Linked DNA regions of Homo sapiens. The protein of the gene in region 2 interacts with the protein of the main gene of each other region in a biochemical or structural test. Each region holds a gene or a part of one and is shown on either strand. Other genes may lie near its edges.

Region 1 (3,910 bases), on a different chromosome or scaffold from region 2:
GATGCCAGGAGGGACCCCACTGCCCTTCCTCCTTCCTCTCCAAAAAGGGTAAAAAAAGAGAATCAAACCTCAAAGATTTCCCAATGGGTACATCTCTCACAAACCTTTGTGTACTCTAGGAACCACAGGCATGCTAGAACAGGCCCGGCATGGCCTTGTGGGCCACTTCAGCCAAAGACCACACCATGGAGAGTTCTTGGGGTCTACCAGGCTCTGCCCAAGTCTCCTCAGCATAGTTATGAGTGCTTCAGAAAAAACTCAAAAGTCACTTCCCCAGGTGTGAGTCAAGATAGTCTTGACCTTGGGGTGGGGCAACCCATGACTGCTCCCAAGCCCCGACTTTATTCCACTTAAACCAGTGCCCCCAGGGAACCCAGCCTTCTGCCTGGTCTAACGTCATCACCTCAGCCTCCTCGCTGTTTCCCCTAAGCCCCAAAACTGGCTCTGTTCCCCTTCCGACCCTGAGATCCAGCCCGGAACATGTGGAGAAAGGCTTGCCAAAAGTCTTGGAAAAAAACTGAAAATGACTAAATGCAAAACCATCTCCCCAGTCAGGCCCGGCCTTCCCAGCTGCCGCCAGCCCTTCCCCACCCAGCCATGGAGAGTCAGAACAGAGCCCTGCGGGAGGGGCAGGTGCCCAGAGTCAGCAGAGACAGAGCGAGACCCTGCAGGGAGGCAGAAAGCATCCTGCCACCAGCACAGACCCAGGTCTGCAAGCTTGTGAGAAGGAAATCATACCAGCTGGTGCTGACTGAGCCCCAGGAACATGGTTCCCTCAGAAGGGCTGGGGGTGGGGAGCTTGCATGCTTTGCACACCCACAAATACTCACCCACCCAAGAATACTCACCTTGCCATCTGAGGAATGCGAACAGGAAGGGCCTCTGGTGAGGCCAGAGATGTGTTTACAGGTTCCTCAGCAGCCTTCATAGTAAGCCTGGGCAGAGCAAGAATGCCAGCAGCTGCCCTCCATGGGGAAACTGAGGAATGAGGGGTGGGTGTGGGAGCCAGAGAGAACCCTGTGGGAGAACACTGGGGTGCAGGAGCTGGGACCCACCCATGGCCATCCCACCTCAGGTAGCAGCCTCTCACACAGAGGTGCTGACTCTGAAGCCCAAAGCGGGGGAAATGGCTTGAGGGCCTGAGACAGCACCAAAGCCTTGAAGACCTGTCAGAATGAGGCCCGCCCGAGAGGTTCTAACTTTACCACTGTCCCTGGCAAAGCCAGCAGGTGACTCCTGGCCAGGTAATTCCCTTTCAGCTGAGCTAAGCATCCCTGTATCCCTGTATTCTGACCTCATGAAACTATTTTGAGCATGAATGTAGCAGCGGGCATGAAAACACTTTGGGCTCTTCAGAGAAAAGGCACTACTGACATGCAAAGAATTCTTCTTATGCCCATTCTCAGACCTGGGTTCGGCCTTGCGGCAGCTTCCCCTGAGCCTCTGGCCCCTGACCTGCTCACACTTCACAGGAGGTAGCTCCCTGACAGGATAAATTCACTCTCCCACCGAGGCAGGGCCCTTGGGACTGGGCTGGGGGCTGTCTTTTCTTTGTCACTCAGGGACTACCTGCCAGGCTTGGCACAGGCTGGCTCGCCGGTAGAATTGGGGAGAAGAGAGAGGATATCAGACCAAACCCTCAGTGCTGCGGGGAGATGTCAATTCACTTCCACCTAATAACTCCGCAGGATCAGCAGGCAAACACACACGTTCATTACCAAGTCTAATTAGGCTGGCAGACAAGTGGCATTAATCATTTTTGACTGTACCTGGGATTCAAGCCCCCCACACTCCATAATCAGAAAATTTCATGCTCTGATGAATAGTGGGGAAAATTAAGCGCACATTTAATCCTTTCACTTTCATCTTTTGATAAGACAGGAAGCAGGGAGGAGAGGAAAAACGGGCTGCAGCGTGGGAAGCTCAGAAGGCCTCTTTGAAAGCATTCCAGGTCCTTTCCCTGGCCCCTAACGCACACATCCTCCAACAGGACCTTGCCCAAGAAGAAGATCCCAGTTAGAGCCAGGGGTAGGAGAGGGCTTGGGAGTGGGGGATTCTCACAATCTTTAACAACAAAATTTCCATTTCTGTGCTTCATTTTCTTAAACTCTAAAGCCAAACACGGGGCTAAATCAAGGAAAACACACGCTACACACTCAGTGCTGCTGGGTGCGCAAATACCTTCCAAGTGCCCAAGGTAAATAAATACAGAAGCCGCCAGAACAACACAGGATGATTTCTGAGAGGCCTGAAATGAAGACCTTTCTCTGCTACAGAAAGAATCAATGCCAATGTCCCAGGAGCCTTTTTCACAAAGAACCCACAAGCGGGGGATGGGTCTGCAGGATCGGGGGCTGTCACGCAGGCGGTTCCAGCTGTGCAGAAAGTGCAGAAAGTGGAGCTGAACCCAGCCAATAGCGTAGCAACAAGACTAGAGAGACCAGACTAGAGGCCCAGGGAGATATCAGCCATTCTTAATAAGAATAGTCCCGGTGCCCTTCCCCGAGGGCTGCATGGCAGGGCCTTGTAGTCACATCATTAAAATCTATCACAGAGTGGGGAGGTTAGTTGGCCTCCCTTTCAACCATGTAATTCCAATCACTTAACACTTCACAGCTCTGAATAACGCCCCCTCTGGAGAGAGACTCCGACTCCAGGAGCAGACAGGTGGCATTCACTGACAATGGCCAAGGTGTGTCTAAGCATCTCCAGGAGGGTTTGAGTCAGGCTTAGGTTTCTCCAAGTGCCAGACCATCCCCTGGTCCAGGATGGCTTACGCAGCCACCAAAATGAGATGAAAGGTAAAAGGCCACCTCCATGCGCCTTCTACAGAAGGAACACTAAGGGACGTCATCTGTAAGGGGAAGTCCCTGAGAATAAAGCCAAAGGGCAGCCAGTGAGTTTCTCTGGTTATTTGCTGTTGACCATTCCCTCCTAGAATGCTAGAAATGCATTCTCGCCATCACCATCACCCCTACCCCAAAACACACACATGGGCTCACAGGACCTTTCGTTCTCTCTCTGCCTTTCCACAGATCCCCACTGGATTTCCTTCTCTATCTCACAACTAGGAGTTCTTTAATCCTAGAAATTAATATTAACTCTGAACTTCCCTGTTCACAAATCCAGCATTAACCAGAGGTTGGTTACAGACCTTGAAGTGGGGTAAGCTTAGGTTAGATGAACTTTTGCTAAAAAGGCAGACAGTGGGAAGAGTGTTTTCCAAAATGCTTTCCTTACTAAAGTGCCCTTCTGCCAACATGGTTCCCACCCAGTGTCAGTCTCCTGGGCAGACAGATGTCACTCACATACCCACTGCCCTCCTGCTTGTTTCCAAGGGCTGGGATATTTAATAGCACAAACAAGCCATCACTTTCATCACTCACCACATAGTGAGACCCTGCTCTGGGCCTGGCACTCTGCTGGGTGCAAGAAACACAAAGACAAGGAGCCAATGGCTTCGTGGCCCCTATGCCAGGCAAAGAAGGGTCTCCTCAGCCACAGCAGGACATCAGGTAGGAGTGGCATTTCTAGAGGACACCTAATACCCAAATTTTCTGGGATGTCTATGGCAGTCACTTCCCCACTTAGCTCAGCAACCAGGCAGAGTTCGCAAATTGTACTCACTGCTTCGAAAGGTAATCCTAGGAGGTGTCACAAGCCCAGACTAGTTGTTACAGCTGTTAGATGGGAGGGGACAATAACAATCATATCGAATTAAACATTCGTATTGCATTTTGCTAGGCCCTGTTCTGAGTGCCTTATGTATATTAATCCATTTAATTCTCAGATTAACATGATGAAGTAGGTAATATCATTATCCTATTTTTTTTAAACAAAGAAGCAGAACACAGAGATGTCCAGGACTCACGTGGGGACTAAGTGGTAGTCAGGATTCAAACCCAGGGCT
Region 2 (3,910 bases):
GACCTCTCAAGAGGGCAGGACAAAATGGAAAAGTGTGGTCTGCATTACGTGGAAGTGTGTTGTGTGAGATGGGATCTCCTCTCACTTCCACCTCCTGACCTCCCATCTTTAAAAAGCTGAGTCTGCCTTAGTATCGCTCCCTTGGAAAGTGATCTGGCCAACTGGACATGTTGCAGTATTTCCCCATCTAACACTATCGTAGTGCTAGTGCAAATCAAAGAGAACTCTTATAAGCCAGAAATCGCTGTCCAGTAAGAGCTAGTGGTTAGTAGTTTGCTTTGTGGAAATTCTTCTCCCAAGTCCTCCAAGGAGAATTACTGGGGCCAACTAAGGCCCTGAACATTCAAAATAAAAATTACCAGAAGAGAAGTTCTCCAAATCATTTTCTCAATTGCAAAACTCAGGAGGTGTTTGCATTCACAGAACTGTTCTTTCCCAGCTGTAACAAAGGAAGCCTCTCCCGGTGGCTACTCTTTGTCTTCTTACCCCAGTTCTGTGCAGCTTGCAGAAGCCCTTCTGGGCTTCCACTCCATGCCCCACAGGGCTGGTGCTGCTGTCCCTATGGAGGAAGGAGACTTGCTATAAAACCCTTGGCGAAATGCCAGGGGCCGCATGCCATCTTTCTGCAGTCTACGTTAAGACCACAGCTGTGAGCCTTCTCAAGAAGCCATAGGTATGAATCGGGGGCAGGAGGGTGCCCAGGGCAGAAACGTCTCCACCAAAAAAGTCCACCTTCCTTTGGAGGCACCAACCAGGGGCTGTCCTTTCCTCAACTGCCCAGCTCTGCAAACATTCTGTGGAGAGAAGGTGGAGAAGAGATGGGCAGTGCCTCTACCCCAGCTAGGCTCAAAGACGCCTGCTATCAGGAGCTCCTGATCTTGCTTGGTCAATCTCCATAGCCAGGCACCCAGGTCCAAGCATCTGTCTCCCTCCTCAAACGATATCAGCTGCACTGATGCCCAGCTGCCTGTCAAGCTTCCTGATAGGAGTCCCAGGGCACAGACTGTTCTTGCCCTTTTCTCCCATTGGGGTTGGATTTAAAGATCACATAGGTGGCTGCTCAGAGGAGCTGAGGAGAAGCTCCATCCTCCCCATGCACCTTCACCAGGTGGCCTAAAGAGCTTCCCTGAACCCCACACTCAGTAGCAAGATGAGGCTTCATTCTTGGAATGCATCTCCACACACAAGGTGAGGGCAACTTGCAAGAACCCAGAGGTTGGAAAGAATGGTCTTGACTGCAAACATCGCCCCAGCTTCAAGTGCAGGAAGACCTTTGATGACATGAAGATGGGCTGCGTTCAAGGCACCTGTCATATCTGCAGGTAGCCTCGACATTTCCCTTCAACCTGAAACTTCCTGGCCACCAGGCCACCAGGCCCTGGCCACACTAGCTGGTCAGCACTGTGTACGCACCAGCGAGATCTTTGTTTCTTGAGACATTTCCTTCCACTCAAGGAAGCGCCATAGAGACAGGCTGTCAGCTGGGTACAGAGAAACACACAGGATCTTCTCTGTCTCCTAAAGGTAGCCATGGAGGCAGAGATGGAGGCAGAATCCACTCTTCACAGGTTTCCACATAGAACATCACATATGTCTTTGTCATTTAAAACAATCAACGTTTCCAGTGTAAAAATACGTGGGCTTATTGCATCTACCCCACGGATGGTTTATCTTTTTCTTTCCATCAGACTTGCCGCAAGGTTATGTGGCTGTTATTTTGTTAATTTCCAAGGCTCTTACATTCACTGATCCTTCTAGGCATACAGGGAGAATTTCTACCAACATATAAACAACCCAAATGGTGAACCTGGAGAACCCTCTTCCCTCTCTAAACACAGACAGACGTGTGGCTGCTCCCTGGCACTTGAGAGGAGAAATCTTTCCTTCAACCTAAATACCACTCAGATCAGTGGCTCCTCTGATTTTCCTGCTCACGAGCAGCACATGTGCCAAGCTCACGGCTCTTGTGCTGGTTGCCTGGAATTTAATTACATGTGAAAGTATCAGGTAGGCACATGGACACGTACCATGTGTGCACACACATGTACACACACACATTTTGGGTCCTCCTTATAACTAAAATCAAAAGTCCTTGTGAGCAGAAAAAAGGAGGGCAGGGGTCCAGGGATAGGGAGCTGTCTGCTGACTTCTACATCCAGCTCCAGGTAGCAAATGATGGCTTGGCCGGAGCTGGGGAGGTTTGTGTCTAAATGTTTCCATGGAAAGAAAGTGCCTAGCTTCCTGGGGGTCTTATGGGCAATGGCGGTTCCTGGGGTGCCCAGATCCCCTCGTTCTCATGGCTCAGATTGTTGCTGGGGTCTCGGCTATCTCCTCCAGCCTCTGTCGAATCATTAGCCGGAGCACGGTGTACCTGGAGACAAGAAACAGGCTCAGATGGAGAGCAGCCAGCAACACACCCCTGCCCAGGACCTTCCCGGCCACCTGGGTAACACCAAGGTCACACCAGGTAACAGTGCAGTCAAGTGCCCTGCTCCTTTGCTTCCATTACTGACCCCTCTTTAGCTACTTTGTTGCTTATGTTCATTCCTACAACACGATGAGAGGAAATAAAGAGGCCAAATCCAAATTAGATTATTTTACTATGGGTAGAACATCTAGCCAAAAAAAAAAAAAAAAAAAAAAAGGTAAAAAAAAACAACAGCAATAATAAGCATTCTACGAATTCAGTGCGTTTGCTTACTATGTCCAAGACACTATGCATAGTACTTCATATGCACAGCAGCTCATGAACCCTCACCTAGGCTAGATGATATAAAATTGCTAACAGTTGACCCTCTTGGGGATCCTACAAAAATGGCAACTTCGTATGGTTCAACCTTATAACAGAACCTGCATTTTGCAGAAGAGGCCATAGCAGCTACTAGGCGTGGAGGTCCGTGGCTTGGGGGGAGTTCTGTTTTCCCACGACTTCCCTGAGCCGTGGCACTGCAGCTGCAGGAGTGGGCACTGTTGTGCAGGGATCAATGGACATATTCCTTATGTTCAGGGATTTGTGCTGCACAGAAAAAGCTATTTTTAAAGTTTAGGACATAGTTGGCTGGGCATGGTGGCTCACGCCTGCAATCCCAGCACTCTGAGAGGCCGAGGAGGGTGGATCACTTGAGGTCAGGAGTTCAAGACCAGCCTGGCCAACATGGCAAAACCCCGTCTCTACTAAAAATACAAAAAAAAAAAAAAAAAAAGAAAGAAAGAAAAAAATAGCTAGATATGGTGGCGCATGCCTGTAATCCCAGCTACTGGGGAGGCTGAGACGGGAGAATCACTTGAGTCTGGGAGGTAGAAGTTGCAGTGAGCCGAGATCGCATCTCTGCACTCCAGCCTGAGCAACAGAGCAAGACTCTGTGTCAAAACAAAACAAAACAACAACAACAACAACAAAAACTTTAGGACATAGTAAGTGTTCAGTGTGTTATCAGACTAGTTATGATCATCGATACAGCAAATCCAGCAGCGGCTTTATTCTCCAGTGGCAAAAATGAATCATTAATTCCACCATATCTATGAAAGGCAGTCTCTTCTATGACTAAACATAGCAAAGAAATCACAAAATCCTTCCCAGAAAGCCGCTTTATTTTTCAATCCAAATGCAATTTCCAGAAGATAAATGTTACAAAGGGAGGAAGGGGGAGAGGAGAGGATTTTGGAGGCCAGTAGCTCAGGCTACATCCACGGCTAAGACAGCCTTCCTGAAATCCCTGGAACCTCCGGGTCTTGGTTAGCACTCCTTGCCTTCACCCCTTCAGGCAAGGGGTGGTAACACTAGCCCCAGGGACTGCACTATCCCTTGAGGTTACCCCAGACTCTGCCCAAGTCTTCGCAAATAGTCCCTTCTTCAAACACCCGTCAAAGACCCTCATCGGAGTGAGCATCTGTCTCCTGCTGGGAGCCT

The links.
Region 1: the proteins of RASSF2 (region 2) and RASSF5 form a complex in vitro, tested with the Homo sapiens proteins (one study listed by BioGRID).

What each region holds. Positions count from the first base shown.
Region 1 is NC_000001.11:206,510,304-206,514,213, reverse strand, and holds part of RASSF5 (ras association domain-containing protein 5), read right to left. Parts: intron 1-3,910. UniProt on the Homo sapiens protein: Potential tumor suppressor. Seems to be involved in lymphocyte adhesion by linking RAP1A activation upon T-cell receptor or chemokine stimulation to integrin activation.
Region 2 is NC_000020.11:4,781,972-4,785,881, forward strand, and holds part of RASSF2 (ras association domain-containing protein 2), read right to left. Parts: intron 2,372-3,910; coding exon 2,302-2,371; 3' UTR 1-2,301. UniProt on the Homo sapiens protein: Potential tumor suppressor. Acts as a KRAS-specific effector protein. May promote apoptosis and cell cycle arrest. Stabilizes STK3/MST2 by protecting it from proteasomal degradation.